2 linked regions of the Homo sapiens genome follow. The protein of the gene in region 1 interacts with the protein of each later gene in a pairwise test. Each region holds a gene or a part of one and is shown on either strand. Other genes may lie near its edges.

Evidence for each region.
Region 2: the proteins of SRBD1 (region 1) and MRPS35 interact in a two-hybrid assay, tested with the Homo sapiens proteins (one large-scale study listed by BioGRID).

Annotation. Positions count from the first base shown.
Region 1 is NC_000002.12:45,604,468-45,608,290, forward strand, and holds part of SRBD1 (S1 RNA-binding domain-containing protein 1), read right to left. Parts: intron 975-3,823; coding exon 895-974; intron 1-894.
Region 2 is NC_000012.12:27,713,688-27,717,510, reverse strand, and holds part of MRPS35 (small ribosomal subunit protein mS35 isoform 1 precursor), read right to left. Parts: intron 2,732-3,823; coding exon 2,691-2,731; intron 1,221-2,690; coding exon 1,053-1,220; intron 1-1,052.

The sequences.
Region 1 (3,823 bases):
GACTAAGGAGAAGGATCTAAGCCTATTAGATCCAGATCCTACTCATTACAATCTCATTTCTTACTACTCTCTGCCTCATGTCTCTAGACTGGCCACACTGGTCTTCTTGCTGTTCCCTGAACACACCAAACTTATTCCTGCCTCAGGGTCTTTGCACTTGCTGCTTTCTCTATTTGGAACACCCATCCCCAAGATCTTTGCAAGCTGCACCCCCAAATCTCATCTAGATCTCTTGCCACATCTTCCGCAATAACTTTCTGACTACTCTATCCAAAATGCCCCCCGACTGCAACCACTCACTATGCTCTCTATCCCCTGCCCTGTTTTATTTTTCTTTATAGTACTTATTACTATAAATATTACCAGTCATTTACTTAACAAATATCTTCAGAGCACCTAATATGACTCTAAAGCAGAGATTCTCAACTGGGGATATCTAGCAATGTCTAGAGACATTTTTAATTGTTATAACTTAGCAGGAAGCTATTGGCATCCAGTGGGTAGAGGCCAAGGATGCTGCTAAAAATCCTACAAGAAAAAAGATAGCCCCCACAACAAAGAATTGTCTTGCACACAATGTCAGTAGTGCAGAGGTTGAAAAATCCTGCTCTAAAGCAATATATAAAACTCTATGCTCTCATGGAGCTTATATTCTAGTGTAAGTATTATGTTACATATTTAGTTGGTTACTTTCTCTCTCCTTTCGATACTTTATTAGCAACACTAGACAGAACCTGGAACACAGCATGAGTTCAACAAATACTTGTTGCATGAATGAATAAAAAAAGTTTTTTCTACCCACATCACTTAAGGAGTTAGAAAGTGACAGAATGCATTACTCCTTATTAAAATATTCATCATTCCCCTACCCACATATTAAACCAGTATGCTTACAACTCAGAGAATGAAGAAAATTCATCTTTCAGTACCACATCCTGGACCTGTACTTTCGCTCTTCTTGGCAATGATGACATCTAGAAGAAACAGAAAATAAAATCAGCAACACTTGAATATTCTTATCACTTTATTTGGCTACAAGTAATGGGTCATTCAAAACTAACATTTCATAGGAAAAAAACAAAAACAATGATGTTTATTCACAAGCCCAAACATCAGTTTCCTCTGCTATGTAGCTGCCAATTAAAAGAGTAGCTGGCTGGGCACCATGGCTCATGCCTGTAATCCCAGCACTTTGGGAGGCCAAGGAGGGCGGATCACCTGAAGTCAGGAGTTCGAGACCAGCCTGGCCAACATGGTGAAACTCAGTCTCTACTAAAAATAGAAAAATTAGCCAGGTGTGGTCGTGGGCACCTGAAATCCCAGCTACTGGGGAGGCTGAGGCAGAAGAATCACTTGAACCCAGGAGGTGGAGGTTGCAGAGAGCTGAGATTGCATAATTGCACTCCAGCCTGGGCAACAGAGTGAGACTCGGTCTCAAAAAAAAAAAAAAAAGAAAAAAAAAGAGTAGCTAACAGCCTTCCAATGGTTTAAAACTCTTAAGAGTATGGGCCATCTTTTAAAAAATATAAACTCCTACAGGGTGACACCTGTAGGAAAACTGTGTGCTTCATTTTTTAAGAATTGTGTGCTTAAGTATTCTGTGTTATTTTATGGTAATAATATCAGGCAGCCCCTTACAAAGTCCTTTATTAAACTATATCTCAAAGACAGAAACATTTTTTTCCTATTCTTTTTTTTTTTTTTTTTTTGAGACAGAGTTTCGCTCTTGCTGTCCAAGCTGGAGTGCAATGGCACGATATTGGCTCACCACAACCTCCGCCTCCTGGGTTCAAGCGATTCTCCTGCCTCAGCCTCCCTAGTAGCTGGGATTACAGGCATGCGCCAACACACCCGGCTAATTTTGTATTTTTTAGTAGAGACAGCATTTCTCCATGTTGGTCAGGCTGGTCTTGAACTCCCGACCTCAGGTGATCCGCCCACCTCGGCCTCCCAAAGTGCTGGGATTACAGGCATGAGTCACTGTGCCCAGCCTATTCTATATATTCTTAATGAATAAAGTAGAGGTCTCTCTACAAAGTTGGCAATGAAATAAATGATGCTGATTGACTGAGTAAGCAGCCAGGTTATTCTTAAAACAAGATAATCATTCCCTTATAATAAAAGTTCATTAAACTTAAATAAAATGATTAATCACTATGTGACTAAAAACTATTTACCAAATTCGAAGGCCAAGCTGTAAAAAAAAGTTAAGACAAATAACCAGAGACATCACATAATACGGGAAAGTAAATAAAATTACTTTAGCTGTTAAGATTAATTAGCTGTTAAAATTAATTAATAAAGGACTTTATAAGTGGCTGCCTGATATTATTACCATAAAACCATCAAACTATAAGGACTACACTAGGCTCTGACATGTTTGGAACCCTTTAAACAAGTTTCTGACCCAGTCATATGTTATAATGCCTCTGGTTCTAACATCCGCTTAGAAGAGGAAATAATCTCTCATGGAAATACTAAAGGGGTTGTCACAAAAGGGAATATGTTCTCCCAGCAGCTATAGCTCAACTCAGTCCAGTAAGTACACAATGATTGGGCAAAATAGTGCTCAGAGGGAACCAAAAGAACAACAGGAAAGCAGTCTGCAGGAAGTAGACAGGATAATCTTCCATCTTTCCCTTCACTCTCTTTTTGGCATATTAGGTTATAAAGATCATCCTTTCTCAAATTAGTATTTTTTAGACATTGATCATGAAAGAACAGGTAATTGTGATTTTTATATTATGTGTATCTTACCACAACAAAATAAGAATGGAGGAAGTTAGTGTATGACAAGGGTGGCATTTAAAATCAGGGCAGGGTAAAAATGGATTATTCAATAAATGGTATTGAGACAACTAGCTATTCCTCTAGAAGAAAAAAAGGAGTTTAATTCCTACCTCCACACCATTAACAAAAATTTATTCCCCAATAACTAATAGTTTAAAATGTACAAATTAAAACTATAAAAGAACTAAGAAATAAAGGTGATTCTTTTCACACTATTGAGGGGAGATGGGGAAATGGAGGTTTTCCTAAATATGACTCCTCAAAATTCCAAAACCAAAAAGACTAACAAATTGCAACACATAAAAATTAAAATCCCAAGCCAGTAGTGGGAGCATATGAGAACCAAACCAATTTACCCTGCAGTATTCTAAAAAAAAAAAATTCATATGAAGCAGTAGCTGATACCTTTGGAATTAAAGGTGAAACGGGTTAGGGCTGTGTATAAACTGACAAAGGAATATCTCTAAGTGTCCTACCTCACTTCATGCTATTAGGCAACTGCCCCAGGAAAAAGACTGTAAGTTTATTCTCTGGAGAAGGTATTAATGAAACAGTCTAGACTGTGGGCATGGGAACCATACAGACTGAATGCTAAAGGCAGAGAACCCTAGTCTTCCGCCACTAAATTCCTAAAATACTGCCCTCTAGGGAGGAGAATGGGAAGGCTTTTCTCTGGAGAATCTAACCAGTCCAAGAGTAAAAACTTGAAGGTGCTAAGCTTCCCATCAAACAACCCACCCAGATCACCTTACAATCACTCCTACCACCACATTCTACAATATGCCTGAATTCAGAACATTCCCACACAGACTACCATATACTAATTCTATCTCCACACTTCAGCCTTAACAGAAATGTGTTTAAAATAGGGACAGGCAAACCCTTGGCAGGCTTATGTTTTTGCTTAACCATTATCCTTAAAGAAGGCTCCCCTAAATCAAATATTTCCAACTGCCTCTTTATAAGGCACCCCGAAAGCAATATACCATGGAAAGATGAGTGAGTTGTAATATTTCTTTTCACAAATGTTAAA
Region 2 (3,823 bases), on another chromosome or scaffold:
CTTTGTATAACTTTCATTGTATTTAAGAAACCATCTAAGATATGCATTCCCAGACTAAGCATTTATATTTTCTTTAAAACACCCATGATAAATAATTATACATGCTATCAAACAAAGCATTTGCCTTAACCTATTTTGCTTCAAGCAATAAAGTTAAATTTGGTAGACTATAATAATAATACTAAATAATATTCTACCTTTATGGACAGAAAAAATTTAAATTCCTCTTTTTAAACTGGAAGTTTCACCTCCCAATTCTTAATCTCAAATTAGGTTATTTCATTTTTCTTAATTCCACTGGAAAGATGCAATATAGAAAAGATATGATAGGCTGGGTGTGGTGGCTCACACCTGTAATCCCAGCACTTTGGGATGCTGAGGCAGGCATGTCTCTTGAGCCCAGGAGTTCAAGACCAGCTTGGGCAACATACTGACCCCCATCTCCAAAAAGAAGAGATACAACAGAAAAAGGTCACAAGGGAAGCCACAAGATTGACTAATTACTCTTTTTTTTTTTCCTGAGACAGAGTCTCACTCTATCGCCCAGGCTGGAGTGCAGTGGCGCCATCTCGGCTCACTGCAACCTCCGCCTCCTGGGTTCAAGCAATTCTCCTTTCTCAGCCTCCCAAGTAGCTGGGATTACAGGTGCCCACCACCACGTCTGGCTAATTTTTTGTGTGTTTTTAGTAGAGATGGGGTTTCACCATGTTGGCCAGATTGGTCTTGAACTCCTGACCTCAAGTGATCTGCCCACCTCGGCCTCCCAAAGTGCCAGGATTACAGGCGTGAGCCACTGCGCCCAGCCAACTAATTACATTATTAAATGCCTAGGATTCTTTGAGTATTCTTTACCATTGATAATCAAAATACAACACCTATTATTATCTGGTGTTGTATAATAATAAACCTATTATATTATTTTTAACATTTAAATTAAAATACACTAAGCTGCTATACACTGAACGGTGAAGCATAAGAGAGCAGAAATAGGGGGGAAGATCAGCATTTATTTCTATGTAAGTCTGAGCCAATGAATCAGCAATTTGTCTTACCTTTAAAAGTTCTAGATTTCCCTCCTTTGCCATGGGCACGCCCTTTTTTACTGGATAACCCATTCGAACAGGAAGAGGTACTGCAGAGGGTTTAAATGGTGCTGCAACTGGGTAAACACTAGGCCAGTCCTGGTCAACAGCCATTTTCTCTGTCCTAGGAGGTAGTGCCTAAGAAATATAAAATCGTTTAGTATTTTAAATATAAACACATTCTTTAATTCTTAAAGAATTTTAATTTTAAAGCAAAAAGCTACAATTACAAGAAATAGAAGCAAAATTGCAACATATGTAAAATCTGACCTCCCACAATGCTGCTGCTGTCCAAATTTTAAAAACAACACTAAATCTACCTAAATATCTCTGCACTGTTTCTTCAAACCCTCTGGCAAGGATCCCCTTTAATATCACATTTTCTTCACTAAAAATTTCTTTAACTGGACTTTTAGCAAAATTTTTACATTTTGCTTATGAAAGGGTGAATTAACAATACATTTTGAAATAATTTTTCGAACTTCTTTGATGGAAGTCAGTAGTACATGAGGGGGCGTTAAGTACTTGGAAGTAAAAAGAAAAGGAAAAAATAATTAGGGTTAAACTGATTGAATAAATATATAATGAAAAATTATATGTCTCCTAGGCCCAGAGAAAAACTAGTACTTGATAGCTTAGTCAATCACATTAACATTTATTTTTAATGGCATCAAATACGAGGGGATGGCCCACATACAAAAGTAGGGTTTATAGTGGCAAAATTCAGCCATGCCCCGCCTACGCAATATCAAAACCAGTGTAGTCAATATCCTAGAAGCAGGTAATAGTCCTGAGGAAATGACTGCTCTTAATGATTGTAATTTGATACCATTTAACTTCCAACTAATGTGTCTTTGTTCTGACACTATTGCTCACCAACTGACCTTATCGTTTAGATTCCTCCATAGAAGTAAGGAATCCAAATGTCCACAGGGTGAGACTCAACTAGTTAGAATACGGCCAGGTGCCGTGGCTCATGCCTGTAATCCCAGCACTTTGGGAGGCCAGGTGCAGTAGCTCACGCCTGTAATCCCAGCACTGAGGCGGGTGGATCACCTGAGGTCAGGAATTCAAGACCAGCCTGACCAACATGGTGAAAACCTCTCTCTACTAAAAACACAAAAAATTAGCCAGGCATGGAGGTGTGTGCCTGTAGTCCCAGCTACTTGGGAGGCTGAGGCAGGAGAACCACTTGAACCCGGGAGGCAGAGGTACCAGTGAGCCAAGACTGCACCACTGCACTCCAGCTGGGCAACAAGTGGGAAACTCTATCTCAAATAAATAATAATAAATAAATAAACAAACTAGTTATATTAATGCATAAGTCCCAGGCTGCAGGACTTAAGATAGCATTAGAAATTGTTCCATATTCTGGTTTATACACCTGTTTCCTGGGAGTTCCTCAGTAAGTCAACCTCTCAAAGATCATCTATTCTCTGGGTACTGACAAAAAACAAAGACTAACCTCTGCCAGGGCTATGGCAATCACCCAGTAAACATGACCTTGTGAAGTCTTCTCTGGTAACACCCTTCTGCCTTATAATGAATATCTGCCTCATTTTAGAACTCCAGAAACCATTAAGATAGTAGAGTATACGAACTTTTTACCTTTCTTCTTGGTGGCCTTTCATTTCCGGGTGTTCTTTCCGCTGTACGTAAAAGATAACACAGTAGTTAAAGAGAATTTTATCATGTCAAGTTAGTTGTTCAACATCAATCATGATCCCATTATTCTAACACAATTTAAGGTATTTAGTAACATAACAATGAAACAATCTTTTTTTTTTTTTTTTTGGTAAGCTCAGGGACCAAAATCATCTTAATGAAGACTAAAAACTGGAAACAGAGGGAGTCTCGGCGTATCACCCAGATTGGATTGCAGTGGTGTGATCTCGGCTCACTGCAACCTCTACCTCCGGAGTTCAAGTGATTCTCCTGCCTCAGCCTCCCAAGTAGCTGCGACTACCAGTACACCCCACCACACCTGGCTAATTTTTGTATTTTTAGTAGAGATAGAGTTTCACCATGTTGGCCAGGCTGGTCTCAAACTGCTGACCTGAAGTGATCCGCCTGCCTCAGTCTCCCAAAGTGCGGTGGGCAGGTGTGAGCCACTGTGCCTAGCCCCAGTAAGGAAAATTCTACAGTTATTTGAATTGCAGATACAGTGAATTCATTATCTAAAAAATGACTCTTACAGAGTCTGTCAAGTAAGACAACTTTTTAACAAATAATTTCAATAAACAGTGATAAATATTATGAACACATATAGCAGGGAACGAAACCTAGTCAATTAGTTTGTATGACGGTGAATTTTTTCTTTTTTCTCTTTCTTTCTTTTTTTTTTTTTTTTTTTGAGACAAGGTCATCTCACTCTCGCCCAGGCTGGATTGCAGTGGTGCAATCTCGGCTTACTGCAGCCTCGAACTACCAGGTTCAAGCCAATCCTTCTACCTCAGCACCCCAAGTAGCTAGGACTAAAGACATGAGCACACCCGGCTAATTCTTGTAGAGACGGTGTTTCGCCATGTTGCCAGGCTGGTCTCAAGCTCTTGAGCTCCAGCGATCCACCCACCTCAGCCTCCCAAAGTGCTGGGATTACAGGGGTGAGTCACTGTGCCCAGCCATGATAGTTAACTTTGTGTCAATTTGACTGGATTGAGGAATACATAGACATGTGGTAAAGCATTATTTCTGGGCATGTCTGTGGGGATGTTTCCAGGAGAGACAGGCATTTGAGTCAG